3 separate regions of the Homo sapiens genome follow, and all the other regions are linked to region 3. Evidence: fine-mapped expression QTL. A gene starts in region 3. Each other region holds a variant in brackets. All regions are shown on one strand. Distances are between the middles of the regions.

Region 1 (8,182 bases), 20 kb before region 3:
TGCCTGAGTTGTACCTACTCTGCCACTAGAAGGTTGAGAAAAACTGTTCAAGCTTTATTGCCTCTTTTAGTCTCAGGCTCCTGTTTGTTATGTGAGAATAACAGTACTGGAAGAACTAAATAAGATAATGAAGATCTCAGTACTCAGTGAAAGAAAAGAAGCTCAATAAATGTTCTTTGCCGAGGTAACATTTTTATTGTGTATTTATTTGCATAGAGGAAATAACTACAAGTATAAACTATTAACTGATTATCATTGGCTATGAATACACATTTTTGGGGTTTGCTTTTGCTTAGCTATATTTTATAATTTGTCTATAAAGGTATTAGCGGGGGGCATCCATGAGTTTTCTTAAAAGCTAGAATTCATTTTTGTTCTATTTCCAGAGTGATATTCTTCTGGTGAGGGAAAATGATATATATGTAGATAGCAGCACTGTACAAAAGAGCTCTCCAACAGAAAAACTACTCTGTATCTGTACTTTCCAATGCAGTAACGACTAGCCATATGTGGCTACTGAACAGATAAAATGTGGCTACCTCTACTGAAACTCTGAGTTTTTAATTTATTTATTTACTTTTTCTTGAGACGGGGTCTTGTTCTGTCACCCAGGCTGAAGTGTAGCAATGCAATCACAGCTCACTGCAGCCTTGACCTCCCTGGGCTCAAGCAATCCACCTGCCTCGGCCTCCCAAAGTTCTAGGATTACAGATATGAGTCACCACACTAAGCTAATTTCATTTAATCTTAATAATACTTTTGGACAGTGGCGATATAGAAGTCAGCATTATTTTACATCTTTCTTACTGAAAAATTTAGACTCCTCAAAGCACTCTCTCTTCCATGCAAGCCTAAGCTATATGATACACAAGTAACTGAGACGGGTATGTCATAATTTTTAAGAACTAAAGGGTCCCTTTCTAAGAAAAATGAAATAATACTTACCTTTTGTATGCACTCCTAATCTGTAAGATCCAAATGTAAAAATTTTTCCTCCAACATTTTCAATTACAGATTGTGGAAGATTCTGTTGAAACAAAAAATGGTTATTTTGCCAGTGGAGCACAAGGGAAACTATTCAAATGATACTATACTGGGGTGAGGGAGTGGATCCAAGAAAGATTACAGTGTAAATTTATATAAAGGGTATTCAAAGTCTATAAAAGTTCTTAAAAAATACCAGCCCCTCAGATCAATCATATTTGAAATTCAAACCATTTTCAACTTTTAAAGAGGTTTATTCTTTATTGTTAGATTCTTGCCCTATTTCTAGAAACTACTATAAAGAAGACTGTGATTGAGAAGATCATGTAATCCCACAGGAGCACGTTAGAATCGGGGACTTTATTCATGACAAAGATGCTGTATATAAAATGAATCACCAATTTAGAGTATAATAAAAACATATTCTGATTGCTTTAAAGAAAAAGATTATATTCAACGATTTTTACCAAATATCCCACAACATATTAGAGTATTTTTTTTATCATATCAAAAGTGACTTGAAAGCCAATAGTAGCCACACACAGTGGCTCACGCCTATAATCCCAACACTTTGGGAGGGTGAGACGGGCCAATTGCTTGAGCCCAGATTGAGACCAGCTTCGGCAACATGTGAAACCCCGTCTCTACAAAAAATGTTTTAAAAATTAGCTGGGCATGGTGGCATGCACATATAGTCCCAGCTAATCAGGTGGCTAAGGTGGGAGGATTGCTTGAGTCCTACAGGTCAAGGCTACGTGAGCCATGATCACGCCACTGCACTCTAGCCTGGGCGACAGTCAGACCCTGTCTCAAAAAAAGAGAAGGGGAAGGGGAAGAGGGGAAGAAGGGAAGGGGAAGGGGAACGGGAAGGGGAAAGGGACAGCAGAGCAGAGAAGAAAAAGCCAATATTGGTAAATAATTGCTTAGTTTTTTAGATTTCCAAAAGGCTTTAGTGAAGTAATTTAGAAACAACTAAATTTTCTTTTCTTACTCAGAAAGAGTAGCATCATCAGGAAGAGGGAGAAAGCATTCAAAAACTGCCTTCCTGGCCCTGGCACTAGTGTAAAGTCCCAAGCTTTACGGTTTAGTATTCAATGGCCCTGCTCGTAAGAATGACAAGGTCTGTCCAAACAAAAACAATTTTATGAAGTGTTTAGTCAATATTTCCTTTTACCTAACTCCTCAGTATAATAAAATATCTATTCAGTACCAAAACATGTAAAAGACCACCCCCCTTCCTCTCAAAAAAAAGAAAAAGGACATAAAATGAAGTGTTATTTCATACTCCAAAAAAACCCTAAAGCCAAGTTCTAAACAGTCAGAGACTCCTGTTTTTTAAGAGCATATTTAACCATCACTATAGACACTAATAGACAAGTTATGTGTGTAATTTTTTTTTTTTTTTTTCTGAGACAGAGTCTCGCTCTGTCACCCAGGCTGCAGTGCAACGGGCGCAATCTCGGCTTACTGCAACCTCTGCCTCCTCGGTTCAAGCCATTATCCTGCCTCAGCCTCCTGAGTAGCTGGGATTACAGGCGCGCACTACCACGCCCAGCTAATTTTTGTATTTTTAGTAGAGACAGGGTTTCACCATGTTAGTCAGGCTTGTCTCGAACTCTTGACCTCGTGATAAGCCCACCTTGGCCTCCCAAAGTGTTGGATTACAGGCGTAAGCCACTGCGCCTGGCTGTAATGTTGTATTTCTTAAAAGTAAGCAAAGCCTTTGTCTTCCTATGTTTAGATATTTTAAAACCTCAATGGCAACGCTGACCTGGTTATTTAAAATTAGCCAGCAAGACGTGTGCACAAGTAGCCTACAAAGGAGGTGAAGGAGAAACTATCTTAAAACACTGGTCCACAGACTTCTCTATTAAGACATAACAATCTTTTGAAGAATACTCTCCAATGGTACTTTCTGCAAGGATGTAAATATTCTGTCACTGTTATCACTTTTGTTGAGCACCTGAAATGTTGCTAGTGTAGTCAAGAATCTGAATGTTTAATTTTAATTTTTATTTAAATACCTGGCTGGTGACTAGTGACTAGTATATTATAAACTACATTTTTAGATATTAGTATGTTTATACTTATTATCATCATTGTAACCCAGAAATTAAGATTTCTTAATTCAGGTCATGGAAAAACATTTTCACTTGCAAAATCTTTTTTTCATTTTTAAGTGAAGAGTATTAGATGTCAAACAAACCAAAAAAAAAAT[C/A]TTATTTTCTATCAGAAACTAAAATCAGTAAGAAACACATGGTACGTAAAGTCCATAATTTAGAATACTACATTTGCTGAAGTTTAATTTGTATTTTGAAATATACATATACACTGCATAAGTAAACAGTACTATAAATTTCATTAAAACCAAAAGACTACAACTTTTAAGTTGACACCCTGTCTCCCTGCTCTATGAAATTTTTCCTTTACCCTTGGTTCTCTTTTCAACCTTTCAGTTATATTATAGATTAAACACGGATTTTGTACTACCCTGGAAAAATTACCACTATTTATGTTATTTTTTTAAATGGGTCAAATGAACTCCACACACAACTCTACAAATACATTTTCTCTACCAGAAGAAGCCCAGCCATGTATTTATGAGTTGTATGTATGAGTATTCATAATGAAGTGTTAGAAACTCAAAGGGGCTGGGGCAGTGGCTCACCCCTGTAATCCTGGCACTTTGGGAAGCCAAGGCAAGCAGATATCTTAAGCCCAGGAGTTCGAGACTAGCCTAGGCAACATGGTGAAAAGCCATCGCTACAAAAAATTAGCCAGGCTTGGTGGTGCCCACCTATATAGTCCCAGCTACTCAGGAGGCTGGGGTGGGAGGATTGCCTGAGCCCGGGAGGTGGAGGATACAGTTAGCTAAGATCATGCCACTGCACTCCAGTCTGGGCAAGAGGGAGACCCTGTCTCAAAAAAAAAAAGAGGACAGAACAGTACCTCACGCCTGTAATCCCAGCACTTTGAAAGGCCGAGGTGGGCAGATCACTTGAGACCAAAAGTTTGAGACCAGCTGGTCAACGTGGCAAAAGCCCATCTCTACTAAAATACAAAATTAGCTGGGTATGGTGGCACACACCTGTAATCCCAGCTACTTGAGGGGCTGAGGCAGGAGAATCAGTTGGCCGCAGGAGGCACAGGTTGCAGCGAACCAAGATGGTGCCACTGTACTTCAGCCTGGGCAACTGAGCAAGACTGTCTCAAAAAAAAAAAAAAAAAAAAAAAAAGAAAGAAAGAAAGAGGCTAGATGCAGTGGCTCATGCCTATAATCCCAAGCACTTTGGGAGGCCAAGGAAGGTGGATCACTTGAGGTCAGGAGCTCAAGACCAGCGTGGCCAACATGGAGAAACCCCATCTCTACTAAAAATAAAAACAATAGTTGGGCATGGTGGCGCCCGCCTGCAATTCCAGCTACTCAGGAGGCTGAGGCATGAGAATCACTTGAACCCGGGAGGTGGTGGTTGCAGTGGCACCACTGCACTCTAGCCTGGGTGACAGAGTGAGACTCTGTCTCAATAAAGAAAGAAAAAAGGAAACCCAAAGAATGTTATTACAGAAAACTAAATAGGCCGGGCAGCGGCTCACGCCTGGAACACTAGCACTTTGGGAGGCCAAGATGAGAGGACTGCTTGAGGCTAGGAGTTTGAGATCAGTCTGGGCAACACAGCAAGACTCCACATATACCATTAGCCAGGTGTGAAGGGACATGCCTATAGTCCTAGCTACTTGGGAGGCTGAGGCCAGGAGGACTGCTTGAACTCAGGAATTTCAGGTTACAGTGCACTATAATGGTGTCACTACACTCCGCCTGAATGACAGAGCGAGACCCTGTCTCAAAAAAAATAAATAAAAAATAAATAAATAAATAAATATTCAGTTTGAATAATACCTGAAAATCTTTTTTAAAAACTAACTGTGGCAGAATTTCTTAAAAGGTAAGAAGAGTCTCAAATATGTTTAAAGCACCTTTTTAGAGAAACATCCATTATTTCTGTGAAGAGTGTAAGTACTTTACAATTACTGAGTTTCAGTTTTCAAATGTTCCAAACAAAGAGTACTATACTTATTTTTAAAAATCGCTTAACTCAGTTCAGTTTTTCCTGCTTCCAAATTAACTAGAAAAATAATGTAAAATCTGTTATCAATAGTCTAAAATTGACTCCACATTAAAGACTCCAAATCCACTCAAATAAGAACAGGTTATATAAGACACTTGCTGTGTTCAGTTGGCTATATATGAAATTATTTCATATACAAAAAAGTTGCCTTACCTTGCTTTCACTGATTTCTCGTATCCACTCTTTTACCAGGTTATTTAGTTTTCCCAAAATTAAAATCCTGTTGATAAAACAATTATCAATCAAGTATTCCAGATCATTACTGATTAAATTTCTTAAAGTTTTAAATAGGCGTTCTTCCTAAATTATGAGTTTTTAAGCAATCAGAAGCACAGTATATTGTAGTTAGTGCACGCTCGCTCGCTCTCTCTCTCGCTTTCTCTCTCTCTCTCTTTCTATATATATATACAGGCACTGTTACACTGAGTAAGGCATTCCTTTTTCTCCAGACAATTCAGTACTATAATAACCAAAAGCATAAAAAATCAAAATTAATTCTTCAGAAAAAAAAATAAATAACATCAAAATTAAGGGAAGAGAACTCTATGTAGAAAATAAAAGTTTTCAGCCAGGTACGGTGGCTCACGCCTGTAATCCCAACACTTTGGGAGACCAAGGCTCAGGAGTTCGAGACCAGCCTGCCCAACATGGTGAAACCCCACCTCTACTAAAAATACAAAAAATTAGCCGGGCGTGGTGGCGGGTACCTATAATCCCAGCTACTCGAGAGGCTGAGGCAGGAGAATCGCTTGAACCCAGGAGGCGGAGGCTGTGGTGAGCCAAGATCACACCATTGCACTCCAGCCTGGGTAACGAGCAAGACTCCGTCTCAAAAACAAAAAGTTTTCTCTCTTAAGTATCCCTCTTCTCCAAAACAGATATATAGATCTGGGCAAATAACCCTGGTCTTCTAAGTAAGTAGAGAATGCCTCAAAATTAGTTTATGTCAACATTAATAAAAGTTTCCGAGTTAAAAAAATATAGAATATCTATTTACCTGCGCTGCAGTTCCTCTTCCTCTTCAAAAACCCCAAAGGGTTTCAATGTCTCAATTAGTTTCTGTGTAAGTACGCAGTCAGTCTCCTTGGGGGCTGCTAAGCTGATAGGAGAAGTAATGCCATAGTGCTTCTGTGGCGGTTGTGTTTGTTGTGATCCCTGTGTTGTAACTGGACTATAAACAAAATTGGATACAATTACTGCCAAAAGAATTCTACAATTTGAAACAAATCAGTAAGACCAGAAAAACTAATTTAGTAACACACATTTCTAAACATGATTGGTTCCCTGCAATACCCCCAAAATTTTTGACAAAAAGTGACCAAAAGCAAGTGACCAAAGAGAAAATCCTGCCCCAAGGATTTTAACTGTCACTACTTAAACATCTAAGTTAGAATCCAGACCAAATACATTGCTAGAGAAAACACTAATTCAGAATATAGTAAACTTCTGAGAAATTTCACCTCTTGAAAAGAAGCCAAAATCTGTTTCTTAAACATTGATAAACACGCTACAGAAATGCTACTTTACCAATATAAGACATTCCCCAAATGAAACCTGGCATCTGGCTTACAATGAACGAAGTTCATAGATAATGAAGCAAATAGCAAAAACTTAAACAAAATTTGAAGGGAAAGAACTGAATATAGTTCTTTCCCTTAGGGTGAATATACCTTAAGCTTGTTAATGATCTTTTTAAGAGATTTACACTTCGATAATGATGCTAGTCTAAAAGGTTTATTTTACACACACACAGCTATTTTATCCATTTTAAGATAAGTTCCAAATTTGTAAAAAGGCATAGCATGCTTTAAATGCTTAGGAAATAAATCTGACTCAATCTTTTTTCATAAATATTTTTTCATTAAATTAAGAAGTCAACATAATAATTTTAAACTAACAGTTGAATAACATACAAAACCAAGTACACAATAAGGAAAGACCCAAAATCTGGATCGGTTATTTCTCCCAAATTCCATTCCTTAAGAAATTAAGTGTTTATAGGCCAGGTGTGGGCTCACCCCTGTAATCCCAGCACTTCAGGAGGCTGAAGTGGGAGAATGGCTTGAGCCCAGGAGTTGAGGCCAGCCTGGATAACATGCTGAAACCCTGTCTCTACCAAAAAAAAAAAAAGTGTATTTTACACACACACACAGCTACCTCTTATTTTTTGAGATGGAGTCTCGCTCTGTCACCCAGGCTGGAGTACAGTGGTACGATCTCAGCTCACTGCAACCTCTACCTTCCAGGTTCCACCGATTCTCCTGCCTCAGCCTCCCGAGTAGCTGGGACTACAGGTGCATGCCACCACACCCGGCTAATTTTTATATTTTTAGTAGAGACAGGGTTTCACCATGTTGGCCAGGCTGCTCTCGAACTCCTGAGCTCAAGTGATCCGCTCCCTTTGGCCTCCCAAAGTGCTGGGATTACAGGCATGGGCCACCATGCCCAACCACAGCTACTTTTTTTTACCAAGTTCTAAATACAATTTCTACTTTAAGTTAAAGTGTGATAATCTACATATGCAATAAAGGCCAGGCGCGGTGGCTCACGCTTGTAATCCCAGCACTTTGGGAGGCCGAGGTGGGCGGATCACGAGGTCAGGAGATCGAGACCACAGTGAAACCCCGTCTCTACTAAAAATACAAAAAATTAGCTGGGCGTAGTGGCGGGCGCCTGTAGTCCCAGCTACTCGGAGAGGCTGAGGCAGGAGAATGGCGTGAACCTGGGAGGCGGAGCTTGCAGTGAGCTGAGATCGCACCACTGCACTCCAGCCTGGGGGACAGAGCGAGACTCCGTCTCAAAAAAAAAAAAGCAAAAAGCAATAAAGTGCTAAATCTAAGAATGCTATGCAAGTAAGGCTTATGATACATTTACTGAACAAATCCACTGGGTTCTGGTCTATACTCCAACGGCTAGACTGTTCTGTAATTTGTCTTGTGATATCAAGAAAGATCTAAGAATGCCAAGAAGCCCATACTGCGTGTTACTAATTAGCTGCTGGACTGCGTGTCATCTATTTACTGTTGCCTGGTCTAGTTACATACTGTCTTAATTTTAATTCAGATTTTATA
Region 2 (8,182 bases), 78 kb before region 3:
GTACAAGGAACAGAGCATGAACACCCCATGTTGATTTGGGTCTCTCCTCCTCTGCAGCTTCCTCAATAGAGCACAAAGCTCTTGGCCTCTTCTACCCAGGGGTCCCCACCCTCCCTCAGTCCTCACAGGCCCCCCAGGCTGGCCACACTGACTGCATGGACGTGGCTGCACTCAGCCTCCCTGCGCCCCTCCTTCCTGAGGGGTTGGCCGAGGTTAAATGCTGATCCCACAAATGTCCGGGTTTTGAGCATTCCTTCTAATTACAGGTGTTCAGAGAGCCATTTGCGTGCCTTGTGAAAATGGTGCTTTCTTGGGGCCAGGCTGTGGTCAGTTAGTATCGTCCTTGCTTTAGCTAAGGGTGGGCAATGTCCACACAGCCAGGGAGGCAAAGCATAAGAGCAGGGAGTGCTGCGCCCGCTCCGGGGCTCCCTCAGCCGGCCAAGCCGCTAAGCCAGGAAGATTCCTTTGCGGCTGCCCACAGGCCGGCCCAACCAAGCCCCCATTTCAGGGCTAACAGTGACACCTGCAGTTTAACCTGCCACATGTCACTCTGCGGGACAACTGCCCTGGGAGGGGGCTGAGGGACCTTGGGCCACCTGGCCACCAATGCCCTTGCCAGGGGTCCCCAGGGAGAGGCTGAGGAGACTGAGTTCTCTGGGCCTGGTATAGGAGCTAGAGAGAGGGCAGACCCACCTGCTGTTCTGGGAGGAGGCCACAAGGCAACAGTTTCTAGCCCCGAGACTCCAGAACCCAGCACCTGTGCCTGTGACTCTCCCCACTCAGCCACCAACCTAAGAAAGCCAAGGCCATGGGAACTTGCTGGGTGGGGAGGCAGCAGGGACCAGAGAACACCAGTCGCCACAGTGGCAGCATCCAAACAGGTTTTACTGAGAGCCAGCTCTGTGCTGCACTAGCTCACCTTCCCCCTGCTCCTCTCAGCAAGGCGCGACCACCTGGCCCAGTGCCCTCACTTTACAGCCCGGAAGACTGAGGACCACAGAAGGGAGGTGGCTTGGTCAAGGTCATCTAGGGAGATGGCACCTAAGTCTGGTCTGCAGCCTCAGCCTACCTGCAGGACAGTGCTCAGGACTGCCATGGCGACATGCTCAGGACTTGATCAGGCGACATGCCCTTCCTGGCGTGGCCACCATGGGACAATGCATGCACAGCTTTCCATAGACCATCTCCTCAACACCACCACCCGCCCTCCCCCAACACACACTCACATGCTTGCACACACACACGCACATAGGCACACACACCGAGAAAAGACAGCAGGTCCAAGATGAATTATCTGAATCCAGCCCCAGCTCCCAAAGCATGGCCCCAACAGCCGCGGCTCCATTTCCTCCCCTGCACTCGCTCACAGAAATCTGAGAGCCAGGACACAGGGAGTTGAGAATGAAAATGAACCGATGCAAAGATTTCTTTATAACTTTTCTCAATATTCTGCTGATTGCTAGCTCAGTAGCAGATGTGGTGTGCTTAATGATGCATAGAGAAGCAGCAGCCCCTGATCCCTAAATGAACTTCTTATCTCTAAATATATACAGGGAAAGCTATATAAACTCAATTTAGCCCCTCTGCTCTTCCAGCTACCCCGATCGAGGAGTGGAAGGAGAGAGTGGGTGCCTGGAAGACCTGGCAGGGGCAGATGGAGGGCAGGGAGAAGGTGGGGAGGCTGCAGTGGCATCCGGCCACTGTGCTCACCGCCCCCCAGTGACTGAGCTGGCCACACAGACAGGCAGCCCACCTTCCTATTTCCCAGGGTGAGGGGGTGGTTTGAGGGGCTTCCTCCTGAGAAAGCCTTCAGTGGCAGGAGCAGCAATAGCAACAAAAACCTTCACCAGCAAAACCTCTCTCTGTTTAGCCATTTCCATTAAGGTGCCGCATCTGTATGTAGCAAGATTCAGCAAGTTCTTACAACTCAGGTTCTCGGTAAAGGGGTTAAAACGCTTTGGCCCTGAGCCTTCCTCGCTTGGTGGCATCCACTGTGTGCAGGTGCGAGGCCAGAGTCCCAGGGAGGACCCAGGGTCCAGCAGGGACAGATGTGAGTTCCAAGTGCAGGTGTGTGCCAGAGGCAGACACACTGGGCTGCAGGAACACAGAGGGGAGCCCTAGATCCTCCTCTCTGCACCCCCCACCCCCAGGAACGCCCAAAGGGCAGAAGAAGCAGCAGGTGCGAAGGCTTGGCAGGCAGGAGAACACCAGGCCTGCTCAGGAGCTGTGGTAAGTCTGGACACGGGATGATGGGTGTAACAGAGGGCCCAGGGGCAGGGGAAGCAGGACCTCCGACACCGTGTGAGGAGCCTGACCTTCATCCTGCAGGAGGTGAAGGGGATGCTTGGCCTAGTTCTAGGTCGCTGCTGATACATAAAAGCTGCTGCTGCCATGCTGAGTGGGTGAGCAGGAGGGCGGGGCTCGGGTTCAACACTCAAGTCCCAGAGTTCCCAAGAGGCCAGCCCAGGGCCTGGCCAAGTCACTTCAAATAGCTGTTTAGCCCAGATGGCCTGTTAATCTTGAAGGAAACCCAAAGAAGCACAGAGACACAGTTGAAATGGGAGTAAGAGCACCCAATGCCCATCCACGGCCAAAGGAAAGCTTATGCATATGCAACATGGGCCCACTCCGAAGGCTTTTCCATTAGCCGCGTGGAGACACTGTGGCCAGGTTGGGGGAATCTATATTTCACCTTACGTTGCACACAGCTGGGCTCAGACTGGCACCAGTGTTAATATGCAAACGAGGCAGTATCTGTATTCACCAGGGCTCTGAGAAGCCAGGATCCTTCTCTTCCAGAGCAGCAAACAGAGAAAGGTGGGTGGGGCATGCCAGAGGGGGCGTGGCTGGTAGGCAAGGACTAGGCAGGAAAGAGGCCATTGGAATGGGAGGAGAGACCAAATTATGTCAAATCAGTTTGGGGGAGTGGAGAACATTCTCAAAGAGAAGACTTAGAACCCAAAGGGTTTTGGAGCCAGAAGTTCCTCCTCGGTCTAATGGTCTCATTTTATTGATGAAAAAACTGAGGCCTAGAGAGGAGAAATAATTTGCTGAGAGACAAACACCTAATGGTAGTTTTTTGTTCATATGCGAATACAGCTGTGTTTAAATTTAATTTTTGTTTATATAGGTAAAGAAAGATCAAGGAGATCCTCAGAAGGTCAGTCCTATCAAGACCATGTGAGTACCGCGTGGACAAAAAGAGAAGCCACGGTCCTTGCCTTTGACATGTAATAAGAACTCAAAAGAATGGGGCACTGCGCATTCAAGAAGGTCATGAAGTGAACGTGCTACCTGCCAGGTGTGGGCTAGGGAACTGGGTGCAGTTGGTATTATCTCAGAGGTCCCCGGGGCGGGTGGAAGAGCTCAGAGCCACATCCCACCCTGCGCTTTCCTTTCGGCTCTGCTCTGAGCCCCACTCCTGGCTCCTCTCTCCAAACCCCCTTCCTTCGGGTTTTCTGGGAGAAATGTGCAAAACCTCACCAGTCTGTAGCGATGGATACAGTTTCTCTAGCTGGACACAGCTCCAGTGGTTCTAAGTGTGCATCTCTTAAAACGTCCACTGAGGCCAAAAAGCTCTCCCGTGCCCATCCCCCCACAGCAATTAGCAAATCGTCGGCACAGCAGTTATCTATACTAGACACATGCAGCCTACAAGCTAGACACCTCTTAAGGGAACTAGTTTCCTCATCTGTGAAATACAGTTTACAAGGCCTGTTTTCTGTGAGGAGTAAAAACGATCAGGTATGTGATGACATTTAGTGTCATACCTGCTATACTTGAAGCTAGCTGAAGTTACAGGCCTCTAGGATAATCTGCTGTGAGTTGTGAAAACCGGCACATAAGTCGAGTGTTAACCACAAATGACACAGGAGACAGCCACGAAGACCTTTGCTGTGCACCTAGAGGACAGGGCGTGACCTTGGTGCATGGGCTGTGTGACATTTCTTCCCAGAGCCTAGAAGCCTTTTCTACTTACTGCTCGGTTCAGAGATTCAGGGCTGGGTTCCAGAGGGATGCAGGAACTGCAAGCCAGGCTTCCAGATAAACAAGCTTTCGCGTGTAGCACGGAGTGTCTGTCCTCCTTCCTGAGTCTTCCCTTCACCCTTTTTAATGCCAACTCCATTTGTGATGATCACAGGAATTACTCTAAAGTCAGCCTGTGCTCCTCGGAAGGACAAACTGTTAAAGCTGAATGTAAATTTGGCATTGCTCTCCCTTGAATGCTCTTGGCATCCGTTTAAAGAAAC[G/C]AGAGTTAGGGCAGTGATCGCATATTCATTTTTATAAAAACGACTTACAGACCAAGATTGGTTTCTTGAAATCCCACAAGTTACAGCTTAATTTCCTTCACCAGCACTGGTCCAGTCCTATGCTACACTGGCTTTGGCCACACTCACAAACTTGTTAAGCCTCAGTCACTTTATTCTGCAAAACCTGCCATAGCCAGAGAGGTGGTAGACTGGAAGACTCAGGGTAACCAGCCATGAGTCTTAATCCAGGAAAAGGGCTTTGACAGTGGCCCCTGAGATCTGAGAGGACTGTCCAGTTACTAGTGCATCCCAATTAGCTGGGCTCCCTATCATGGTTTATTCAGCAAATGACAGTCAGGACTGTCATGTCAGGCCAGGTGTGGTGTCTCACACCTATAACCCCAACACTGGGAGGCCAAGGCAGAAGGATCACTTGGTCCCAGAAGTTTGAGACCAGCTTGGGAAACAAAGAGAGACCCTGTCTCTACAAAAGAAAAAATTTAAAATTAGCTGGGCCTGTGGTGCCGTGCACCGTGGTTCCAGCTACTCTGGAGGCTGAGGTAGGAGGATCACTTGAGCCCGGGAGGTCAAGGCTGCAGTGAGCTGTGATTGCACCACTACACTCCAGCCTGGGTGCCAGAGCAAGACCTTGTCTCAAAAATAAAACAGAATTCTCATGTCAGAGCCCCTTTCCAGTAAAGTGGGAGAGAGCACAGGCAGACACAGCTCCTGCCTCGAGGGGCCCCCTTAGCGTTCAAGCTATGATACCCGAGAGTCCTCTCTTTGGGGTCTGTCTGCCTAAGAACATAGGGTTTGAATCTTGGCTCCACTGCTTCCCAGCTGGTGGCCTTGGACAAGTCACTGACTTTCTCTGAATTCTTAGGTTCCAGGTAACAAAAGCAGTCCTGCAGGGCTGTTTTGGGTACTAGATGAGAGGTGTGCATAGTACCAAACAGTGCGTAGCACACAGTCAGGTGCCCCTCTTCTCTGTCCCATCACCCTTAAACATTCCCATCATTGCAATTGGCACCATGGGTCGTTGGACAAGTATTTCTCTGTGCCTCGGTTTCAACATCTGGAAAATGGGAACTGTAATACGTGCTTCAAAGGATTGTTGGGAGGATTCAGTGAGATAGTCCACGTAAGGCATTTAGCACAATCTTTAGACCATGAAGTCTTAATACACATGAGCTCATATTCCACTGGTACACTGGGAGCTCCTCGGGAAGAACTTGGTCAAGTCCTTCATTCACTGAATTTCCACAGACACTGACAAGCAGCTATTACACATCATGCACTGTGGCTACAGACATGCATCAAGACACGGCCTCAGCTTTGCAAGAGCTGCTCCCAACTCGGGCAATACCACAATATGGTAAGTGCTAAGAGATTTAGCTACAGAGTGCTTTGGGAGTGGAGATCTAACCCAGCCTAAGGGATCAGAAGACTTCTCAGAGATGATGATATCTAAGGTATATCCTGTGGGATGAGTGAAACCCAGCTGAGTACAACAGGAGGTGAGCAGTGAGATGCTGGGGCAAGAACTTCCACGCACACAGAAGAGCACGTCGTGGCAAGTGGAAGAGGGGACAGGCTTCGGCTAACTCATTGACACACCCAGAACTCATGCCAGGCACTTGGGGCTCAGGAGGTGCTGCTGAATGAATAAACAAGCTTGCCGTACACGGTTCACATCCTCCCTTCCTACCTGCTGCTCCAGGTTCCAGGGAAGAGATGCCCGCTCCCTCTGGCGCCTAACCCAGAGCATAGCCAGGAAGAAGAGGGCAGCATGTGGAGCAGTGCGTCACTGGACATGCCAGGCCAGGCTGCCATGGGAAAGCACTCCAACTCCAGGAAGACTGCCACACCCCCAGGTGCCCAGACTCCCAGATTCTCAGTGAAAGGGACAGGCTGGGGCCCCAAGTACTGCTGCAAGTGGACTCAAGTGGCTTAAGTTCAGAAACCAAGGTGCTAGGCAAGTTGTCCACGGGTGGGGAAGAAGCACCCTCACCTCCTGTGCGGTGCTTCTTGACGACGCAGGGGCCAGGTGTGTGAGCCTCACCTCGGGCCACATTCCCATTACATCTTCCTAGCAAAGTTTCCAAAGCTTTGTCCTCATTTCTCCTCTTCCCACCCAGGCCCACCCCGTCTTGAAATTCCTCTCCTGACTGAGATGTTTGTTGTTCACTGTTGTACCCTCCCCTTCATCCTTCTTGAAGGCTGTTAATAGAACCATCAGACAGACAGGCAGCGTCAGGAGAACAGGCACCTCCCCAGATGCCTGTTGGGTTGTTCTCTCCCGTCTTCCACTTGGGCTACAAGTTGCCAAACACCTAGGAATAGGGGCCGTTTGGTCAAACTATAGCATCTACCAATGGTCAGTGCAAATGTCTCTCTTTGCCTCCACATACTGGGGGCACTGAAAGGAATCCCGGCCTTGATTTCTCTCCAGTGGGTGGTAGACACTGGAGGGCAGTCAACAGCATGCCAGGAACAGAATGAGGAGCAGCGCCTGGGCTGGAAGTTGGCTGTGGGCTGCAAGGTGGTGGTGGGGACTAATGGGGCAAGGGGTGACTGCATTTATCAATGAAAGTATGAAAGGCTTAATTAAATAATGACTCATAAATATTCAGCTCAGCCAAGCTGAGCCCCCACAATGATGGATGTCAGGGACTAAAAGGCTTTCAAGGGGAGGACTCTGCAGAGATGTGGGCCCCCACGCGTGTCAGAACGTAAAGGGCACACTGCCCACAGCCTCTGCTAGCTTGTGACATATCGTTCCCTCGCACCCGCCTTGCAAGCCAAATGCATTTTAAGGCAAGCGGTCTAGTTCCCTAATGAAGAGACTTCTCTATCAGGACCTTGGAATTTGTAGTACAGTAATCCCCTTTATCCATGGTTCTGCTTTCCGTGGTTTCAGTTACCTGCAGCCAACCACAGTCTGAAAATATTCAATGGAAAATGCCAGAAATAAACAACTTATAAGTAGTAAATTGTGCAGCCCTCTGGGTAGTGTGAAATCTGGCACCGTCCACTCCATCCTATTTGGGATGTAAACATTTCTTTTATCCAGCATGAAGCTGGATCTGGAAGGAAGGGAGGTGCGAGAGCAAGTATGCAACGGTACAAGTCTCCAATATGGGAATATGGGACCAGGTACAAGCACAAGTGACGGAAGCCCAGGGTCTTTGTGTGTGTGTGCGCTCTTTGTTCTCCTTTACTTAGCTTCTACCACCACTAAGAACCTGGACCACATCTTAATCATGTTGAGCTGCTCTGAGCCTCAAGATCTTTCTCAATAGGGCAGTAACATCTAACCTACTGCTCCCCACCCGCCCCACCCAGTCACACACTAGCTTTGCTGGCTGCTTTGTTCTCTGACCTTGACATGCTCTCCTGCCCCGTGCCCTGGTGCAAGCCCTTCACTCCACTTAGCATGCTGTCTCCTCTGCTCTGTTTCCTGATCACAGCCAAACTACCCATCAAATGGCACCTGCTCTCCCACATCCTCCCCAAGGCCACCAGGAAGCTGCATGCTCCCTCAGCACTTCTGGACCTCTTATTCTATCACTGTGATACATCTGGGCACCTACATCTCTCTCAACCCAACTAAGCTCTAAAACTCCAGCACCTTCCTGTTCCTCTGCAGTTGCCAAGCTCCTTCCTGCTTAAGAAACATGCTGCTCCCTCACTCGGCACCACCTTAGTCTTCAGGTCAAAGCTTGTCCAGTTTGAAAGGGTGCTCCTAACCTTCCAGAAGCACTCTTATTTCCGTTCAGAGCCCACTAGTAACTTACAGTTCATTTGTGTTGTCGGCATCTGTATCTCCTATGAACTATAAGCTTTCATAAGGACAGGGGCTATTATCAGTTTTGTTCCCCATGTATAACTAGGGCCTCTTTTTAACTGTTAAATGTGCCCCAAAATGGAAA
Region 3 (8,182 bases):
TGAATGTACCCTTGAATGCACATATGATTTTATTACATCACAAATGGTCATTTGGAAAATATGGGTTCACTGAATTATACAGGTCTACCAAATATTAAAAAACATTCTTTTTTTAAGCACACATTATACAGCATTAAAACTATATGCATTAATATTACCACCAATGTCAGCAGAAACATCTTTTAAGTATTGGGAAAAACCGTCAAGCTCATGATGGAAAAGCAAGCTTTCTAAAATTCTATATTTTGCTTGAAAGCTCCAATTTTTCACTGGCCAGGAATAGTCAGTTGTTTACCTTGGAGTGACAGACTTGCTTTATTCTCATTTAAGTCTCCTAAATACTCAAATATGAATATCCACAGTTCATCACTTGTTCTTTCAGATAAAAATGGAGCTCCATGAGAACACCAGTTTAGCTCACAAATCAACATACAAGTGCTCCTCAAAACCACCATTCTACTCCCCAGTATACAGCTTCACAAGTACTTTCCGTGGTCACAGTACATTAAATAAACAAAGTGTCAAGATTTAATAAAATTAACCTCCTTTTACTGTTTCATCAAAAGCTTTTTAAACTATGAGTGTGCAGTCTTCAAGAAATAAAATGACAGCCGGGCGCCGTGGCTCATGCCTGTAATCCCAGCACTTTGGGAGGCCGAGGTGGGGGGGGATCACGAGGTCAGGAAATCGAGACCATCCTGGCCAACATGGTGAAACCTCGTCTCTACTAAAAATACAAAAATTAGCTGAGCGTGGTGGCGTACACCTGTAGTCCCAGATACTTGGAAGGCTGAGGCAGGAGAATCGCTTGAACCCGGGAGGTGGAGGTTGCAGTGAGCCGAGATCGCTCCACTGCATTCCAGCCCGGCGACAGAGCAAGACTCCGTCAAGAACGGAAGGAAGCAAGGAAGGAAGGAATCAAGCAAGGAAGGAAGGAAGGAAATGACTATATACAATACCGGTTCTCTGCCTTGATTGTTCCTATGATGGATACAGCATTTTCCACCACTGCTTTTGCACCGTTAAGTACAAATGTTGAAAGACAAAACATCTCAATAACATGAAAATAGTTTGAACATTATGTACCCTCTGAAAGATCTCAGTGGTCCCCCTCCCCAAGCATCCACAGATCCCGCTCTGGGAAGCACAGACCATCCACCAGCAGGTACCAGTTCTGCTTGTTATGGCGATGTAAAACTACTACAATTCCCTCTTTTTTGTGCAGCCCCCGAAAACATTTTTGCTATTGTCTCGCCTAAACCTTGCAGTAACTCTTTTTGGTAACTTTGACAACATTCTATGCATGTGGCATAAATGCTACTGATACTGGTTACTCTCCTTCACACCTTTTTATCATATGTGTGATACTCAGAACTGAGCTGATGCCAAAAATATCTGACCAACACAGAGTAGGGCAGAAATACATCTAGTTTCCATAAGGGCATCACACTTTTCGTTAATGCCGTGGTTCTCAACCAGATTTTGCACCCCAGGGCACATCTGGTAATATCTGGAGACATTTTTGATTGTCATTACTGGGGAAATGGAGGGGTGGAGCTCCCGGAATCCAGTAGGTGGAAGCTAAGGCTGCTGTTAAACTACAATACACAGGACAGGCACCTGCAAGGAATGAATCTGGCATAAATGTCAATAATGACTAGGTGAGAAACTGTTTAATGGATCCAAAGACTATCAAAACTTTCAGAAGCTTCACCACCATGACTCTTAAATCAGACTATAATCTTTCCAAAAGTATGTTTGTAGCTACATATGAAATTTAGACAAAATATGGACACTTGATCAAAATGTTCTGTAATATCCTAAATTTCGATAATTTTGATTTAAATTCATTCCGACAACTCACCTAGGGTCCATGCCCCAATGCCACTCACCCATCCAAATTTAACATTAGGACAGGTATACCAAAAATGAAAGCCAAACACAATATAGCCGGGAAATCACAATCCAACACATCAAAAAAACAACATTTATGACAGTGTGACAGCAGTACATGAAAAACAAAGCAACTTAATGAGGAAGAAGCCCTATTTTTCTTTAACTAGGCATTCTTTGGTCTCTCTATTGTTTACTACAGTAATTATCGTATACTTACTTTTTGAGTCTCGCTCTGTCACCCAGGCTGGAACGCAGTGGCATGATCAAGGCTCACTGCAGCCTCAGCCTCCTGGGCTCAAGCAGTCCTCCCACCTCAACCTCCCAAGTAGCTGGGATTACAGGCATGAGCCACCACGCCCAGCTAACTTGTGTTTTTTGTTGAGATGAAGTTTCGCCATGTTGCCCAGGCTGATCTCAAACTCCTGGCCTCAAGCGATTTACCTGCCTGGGCCTCCCAAAGTGCTGGGATTACAGGCGTGAACCACCGCGCCTGGCCCCGTCTTCCATTTTACACACTTGAACTAACTCGCGAAGAATTTGAAATACCTAAGGTCTTTCACAGAAATGTATACCTTCCCTCTTCAAAGAATGTTGGGGGAAAGTAGGTATAAAAGTACTTTTAATTCCTAGAAATAAGACACAAATTACTTAATGTTATTTCTTCATTGAAGCCTTTTAAGGTTTACATCTATCATTTTTAATGCTGGTATGATTATCAGAAAAAGAAGTCCCTTTTCAAAGACAGCAAAATGTTAACTTAATAACGCAGTCATCACGACATCACTGCAAACATTTATCTCCTATTGAACTGAGAAACACCACAACAATCTTGCTTAGACTCAGTTCTCCTAGGGTCTCTTATTCTATGAAAGGGAAAAATCAATAAACAGAAACCATGCAGATTCCAAGATTTTAGACCTGTATAGTTAGTTAAGTCTAACAAACGTTTTCATCACAGAAGTAATGTGATAGACTTCTTAATAACCTAAGGGGGTGGGTGGGAGCCATGGAAAATCCTTTTAAAATACATAAATTGCGATAGAAGTCATTAAGGTCTGTGCCAAAGTTAGAGTCTCACCTGTAAAGAAACACATTCACACACATATATAATTGTAAAACTACAATCGGTGATTATGTGCTAAAGAAATTATCCTTACTTACAAAAAAAAAATAGACCTGAGTTACTACATTCGATGTCTAGAAACCACAAAAATCTTTATCCTGAATTTAACCAAAACTTTGAGTGTCAATTACATGTTGCGTTTTGAGGCTACTAAGATGAAGAAAACTCGGTCCCTGGTCTCAAAGAGGCACTCTTACGCTTCAATATTCAAAAATGGAAGAAATGCAGTCTCACTATTTAGGCCTCTACAATGCTGTATATTTGCAGGAAAAAAAAAATCCGTAATCTACTGGCAATGAGCTGCCAAATTATATCTCATTATCAGAAAGGGGGAGGGGAGAAAAAAACTTTTTAAAAACCCACCAAGAAAAGAAAAAGGCGCAGTGGCATTAGAAAGCATAAAGAGACTAGCTTCAAGCCTTACAACCAGGAAAAAAAAAGTATCACCAGAGATAGAGAAAGAAGGAAACAGAATGAAACCTGGTTACCCCATCAAAACAAAACAGGGAAAGCAATACATAAGTCGTTTTGGAGGAGGGCACCCTGTGAAGTGCCCCCTTCTCCGACCGCCTGTGAATGCTAGGGAGGCGGAGGTGGAGGCAGGCGGACTCAACGCTCAAAGCTGGGCTTTTAACTCGTGCTCCTACATTCAGACAAGGTCAGTGGAAAGGGGCTAACTCCGGCGCACAAGACAGGCATCTGGAAATGGGAGGAAGAGAGTGAGCAAACTGAGACAGACCAGGAACAGAAAAGCAACATCGAATGGGCCCGAGGGGCGCCGAGAGCGAGCCCGAACCCCAAGTGCTGATCCCGCGTGCAGCAGGGTCGTGGTTCCCCACCACCAGGCAATGTTTTGTTTTCGGGTTGTTTTGATTTTCTTTGTGGACGGGGCGGAGAAGCTGGAGTGGCCGGGCGAGTTAGAGGTTCCGCCAGCAATTCCGGAAGGGGAAGGCCCCCGGCCCGACGGCAGCTGACCCAGCCAGGAAGGGTCGGGGGACGCGGGAACCCAGCACACGGGGGGAAGTGCGGCGGCGAGCGAGCGAGGAAACAGGAAGGTCCCCAGTCCTGCCTGCCTCCTACCAGCGGGGAGGGTCGGGCTCGCGTGCCACCCTCTCCGCCTACCTCTTCCCCTTCCCGGACGCCCCCCAAGGCCCAGCCGGCGAGCGAAAGAAAACAGAATACAAATTACTTACAACGGCATCGTCTCCGGCGCCGGCACCGCCCAGTCACTTCCCCCCCGCAACCGCCGCCGCTGCCGCCCTGGGCATGATCCACTGAGGCGGGAGGGAGGGGGGGGCCTGCCTCAGCCCTGGGTCCAACCCCTCTCCCGCACCGCTCCCGCCGCTTTAAGCGCTTCTCCTCCTTCCCCTTCGTCCTAACATGGCGCCCGAGCGCTACCACAGCAACGTTCTAGAACTGCTGACGCCACCACGCACGCCGTGCGTGCGCCTGCGCACCAGCGCCGTCCGCCGCGAAGCCTCACGGGAAGCGGAGTTCCTAAGGCCGCCTGCGGCCCGGCAATTACCCCCTGGGTCCTCTCACACTTAGCAGTGGGTGTCAGATGGTGGAAGGGAACGCTCAGGGAGGCCCCGGGCGGTGAGTTGTCCCTCGGGCGGGGACGCCCTCGTGGGCAGTGCGGCGTGGACGGCGCAAGGAAGAACCCGGAGAGATCCCAAGCCACGAGGCACCGCTTCCGGCGCATTGTGAGGTCCCACCTTTCCCGCCGCCTGAGGTCGCGGCGGCTGCTCTTTCCCGGAGCAGCGTCCCTGGAGGCGCTGCCAGGGGGTGAGGCACCCACGCGTGCACCGTATGTACCCCCCAGCGCGGCGCTTAGAACGACTCGCATGAGTCGCTGCCTTGGGTTGGAACCGGTTACTCCGCCGCTTCGTACTGGACTGCAAAGTAACAAGTACTTCGCCGGGCAGCGGTGCCGACCCCGTGTGCTACGGCGAGAGGTGCTTAGCCTAGAGCCGACGAAAACATGTCCCCAGGACTCCCTTTCCCTCCCAGACTGCGTCCCACCAGATGGAGCTTTCCGTCTGTTTTAACCACCAGTGTATTCCTGATGCCTGACCCAGGCGCTGAAATATTTGTTGAACGAATAAATGTGTAGGTTAGGACTGACGACAGTCCGCGAATTCTGGAACACGGGCTGATTTTACTTTTGAACAAATGATGCACTGGAACTTCCTGACAGAGCTGACCTTTTATAGGAACATCAATGGCAGTCACCGCTGGCATTTTAGCAAAGGTTGTCTTGGTCATAATTTCCCCTTGACTGTGTTTCCAGCCCTTAATCTATATCGGGTGGGACCTGGAAGTCTACCTTCTCGCCACCCCTCGGCAAAAGTTTGAGAAAGTGTTTGAGGCAGAGCCTCCTCTCTCATATGCCCTCCATCTGCGAATTAGAACGAATTATAAGTTCTACGGTGTCACATAGGGGGTTAGCGGAGAGGAAGAGGGAAAGAATCAAATACAGGACGCTGCCTTAACCAAAGTTCTAAACTCTAAATGTAATAATGTGCATTTGTGAGTCCTCAGGAAGTTTCACAAAGGCTTTCCCTTTTTTCACAGAATGTCTAGTAGGACTGGTGACTCCGAATGGGAAAAACACAGGACCTAGACCTGCCCTGTCCATTAGTGTAGCCCCTTGGCCACTTAGGGCCACTGAGCACTTGAAATGAGGCTAGTTCGTTTAGGAGGCACTGGAAGTGCAAAATACGCACGGGTGTCAGTTCGACGAATGTGAAATACCTCACTGATCACTTTTTATATTGATTGCACGTTGAAATATTTTGGATATATTGCAGTAAAGAAAATGTAAGCCGGGCACGGTGTCTCACACCTGTGATCCAGCACTTTAGGAGGCTGAGGTGGGAGGATCGCTTGGGCAGGAGTTAGAGACCAGCCTGGGCAATATAGGGAAACCCCCGTCTATACAAAAAGTTAAAAAAAAAAAAAAAAAAAGAAAAAAGAAAAAAAAATTAGCTGGGCATGGTAGTTCCTGCCTGTGGTCCCAGTTACTCCGGAGACTGAGGTAGGAGGATCCCTGGAGTGGGAGGTGGAGGCTGCCGTGAGTCGTCATCTCACTACTGCACTCCAGCCTGCGTTGACAGAACGAGATCCTGTCTCAAAAAAAAAAAAAAGAAAATATACTATTAAAATTAATTTTACCTGTTTTTTTAAATGTGACCACTAGAAAATTTTAAGTTATATATGTGGCCTTCATTTCCATTAAATAGTGCTGATCTGCAAACAGACTTATATTTGATTGTCATTTCTTCCATTTAGTCTCTTTTCCTCTTGTCATCAAGGTGGCTTTGGCTGGAGACCCAGTAGCATAGTTGTCCCTAAAAGACTGAAAATCTGAGATCCAGATAATTCAATAATGTATTAAGGCTATGGACTTCAAAGCAGCTTGTAAAGATATGCCCTGGGGCCTGGCACAGTGGCTCACTCACACCTGTAATCCCAGCACTTTGGGAGGCAGAGGATTCCTTGAGCTCGGGAGTTCTAGGCCACCCTGGGCAACGTGGCAAGTCGTTGTCTCTACTAAAAAAAAAAATCAAAAAAATTAGCTGGCCTTGGTGGCACACACCTGTAGTCCCAGCTACTTGGGAGGCTGAGGTTGGGAGGATCACCTGAGGCAAGGAAGTTGAGACTGCAGTGAGCCCTGATCATGCCATTGCACTCTAGCTTGGCAACAGAGCAAGACATTGTTCAAAAAAAAAAAAAAAAAATGCACTAACGATGTACTTTATGAATAAAAGAATGGGGACTTTTTCAGCTTATGTTGTCCTCTGCCAGGCATCTCAGAAGGCAGTGAAGAGAGGGACGCTAAACATCCATGCTTTTGGTCTATAATTGCTTCAAACTATTTTTGTTTCAGCCTTCCATAGAATGAGGCAGCTAGATAGCACAGCTGATGAATATTTAGTACCTAGAATGTGCTAGATATCACGCTACTTGCCTAAGGCATTTAAAAGGAACAATATTGAGGATTGAGGATGGAGTCAAGGTAGACTTCATGTAAGAGGTCACTTCAGACACGTCCTGATATGTTAGGGTTTGGTAAGTGGACAGAAGGAGTAGAAGGGCATCTCAGGTAAAGAGAACAATTTTTAAAAATAAAATGAGGCCGGGCGCAGTGGCTCACGCCTGTAATCCCAACACTTTGGGAGGCTGAGGTTGGAAGATCACTTGAGGTCAGGAGTTGGAGATCAGCCTGGCAAACATGTTGAAACCCCATCTCTACTAAAAATACAAAAATTAGTCGGGCATAGTGGTGGGCGCCTGTAATCCCAGCTACTCAAAAGCTGAGGCAGGAGAATCGCTTGAACCCAGGAGGCACATGTTGCAGTGGACCAAGATTGTGCCATTGCACTCCAGCCCGGGCAACAAGACCAAAACTCTGCCTCAGAAATAAATAAATAAATAAATAAAAATTAAAACGTGCAAATAATTTATTTGGAGAAAGGGAAACTTTTGAAGTGACTAAACCACAAAATATTTAGTGAGGAGTGGTGAAAATAAAGCTGCAAAGTTAAGTGAGAGGCAGAAGATAAGGGGCATAGTGGTGCACACCTGTGTCCTCTATTCTGAAGGCTGCGGTGGGAGAATCACCTGAGCCCAGGAAGTCAAGGCTGTAGTGAGCCAAGATCATGCCACTGCGCTCCAGCCTGGGTGACAGAATGAGACCATGTCTCAAAAATAAAGGAAGTAGGGGGAGATGGGAGATCATATAATGACTCCATAAACAGACAAAGGAATTATAGATGGTGATAAGCGGCATTAATAAACCAGGCATTAGAGTTGTGGTGGAGGCCAACTTCAGATAGAGAAGGCTTTTCAGAGGAACTGACCTTTGAGCTGAGACCTGAAGTTAATTCTGAGCGATTTTGAATTTTTGTTTTTGTGAATGGAGGAGCCATTGAAAGTTTTAAAACAGGAGTTAGGTTACATTTATATTTTTGGAAAGATGACTGAAAGTGTAAGGAATGAATTTGAACTAGGAGAGGTTTTGAAGCTGGAAGATGGGTGAGGCGGCTCTTGCAATCCTTCAGATGAGAAATGAAGTTTGAAATAAGGAAGAGAAAGCCGGGCGCGGTGGCTCAAGCCTGTAATCCCAGCACTTTGGGAGGCCGAGGCGGGTGGATCACGAGG

Which allele goes with the higher level. Alleles are on the strand shown, and positions count from the first base shown. SD is a standard deviation of normalised expression in the study named. Not every link is listed here.
For the expression in aorta of the gene that starts at base 4,431 in region 3, C is the low allele of the variant in region 2 and G is the other (small effect, 0.17 SD a copy in GTEx).

Evidence for each region. PIP is the estimated chance that this variant, and not a neighbour inherited with it, causes the effect. A credible set is the group of variants that fine-mapping cannot tell apart.
Region 1: its variant is the best candidate, but not a certain one, in a credible set for the expression of PAPOLA in whole blood (TOPMed, PIP 0.69).
Region 2: its variant is the best candidate, but not a certain one, in a credible set for the expression of PAPOLA in aorta (GTEx, PIP 0.77).

Annotation. Positions count from the first base shown.
Region 1 is chr14:96,518,155-96,526,336 of GRCh38, reverse strand. It overlaps PAPOLA (poly(A) polymerase alpha), which reads right to left. Exons shown (of 22, transcript NM_032632.5): 2 at 6,109-6,282; 3 at 5,265-5,331; 4 at 946-1,027. Among named protein-coding and RNA genes, the nearest start is that of PAPOLA, 20 kb to the right of the region's middle. The variant C/A (reference allele first, on the strand shown) is at 3,203.
Region 2 is chr14:96,576,700-96,584,881 of GRCh38, reverse strand. No RefSeq gene overlaps it. Among named protein-coding and RNA genes, the nearest start is that of PAPOLA, 78 kb to the right of the region's middle. The variant G/C (reference allele first, on the strand shown) is at 4,251.
Region 3 is chr14:96,498,631-96,506,812 of GRCh38, reverse strand. It overlaps PAPOLA (poly(A) polymerase alpha), which reads right to left and starts at 4,431. Exons shown (of 22, transcript NM_032632.5): 1 at 4,213-4,431. The coding sequence starts at 4,220. It overlaps PAPOLA-DT (PAPOLA divergent transcript), which reads left to right and starts at 4,487. Exons shown (of 1, transcript NR_122121.1): 1 at 4,487-5,165. RefSeq lists enhancers at 1,782-2,281, 2,282-2,783, 3,939-4,534, 4,358-4,617, 4,535-5,129 and 1 more and silencers at 4,118-4,237, 4,676-5,019.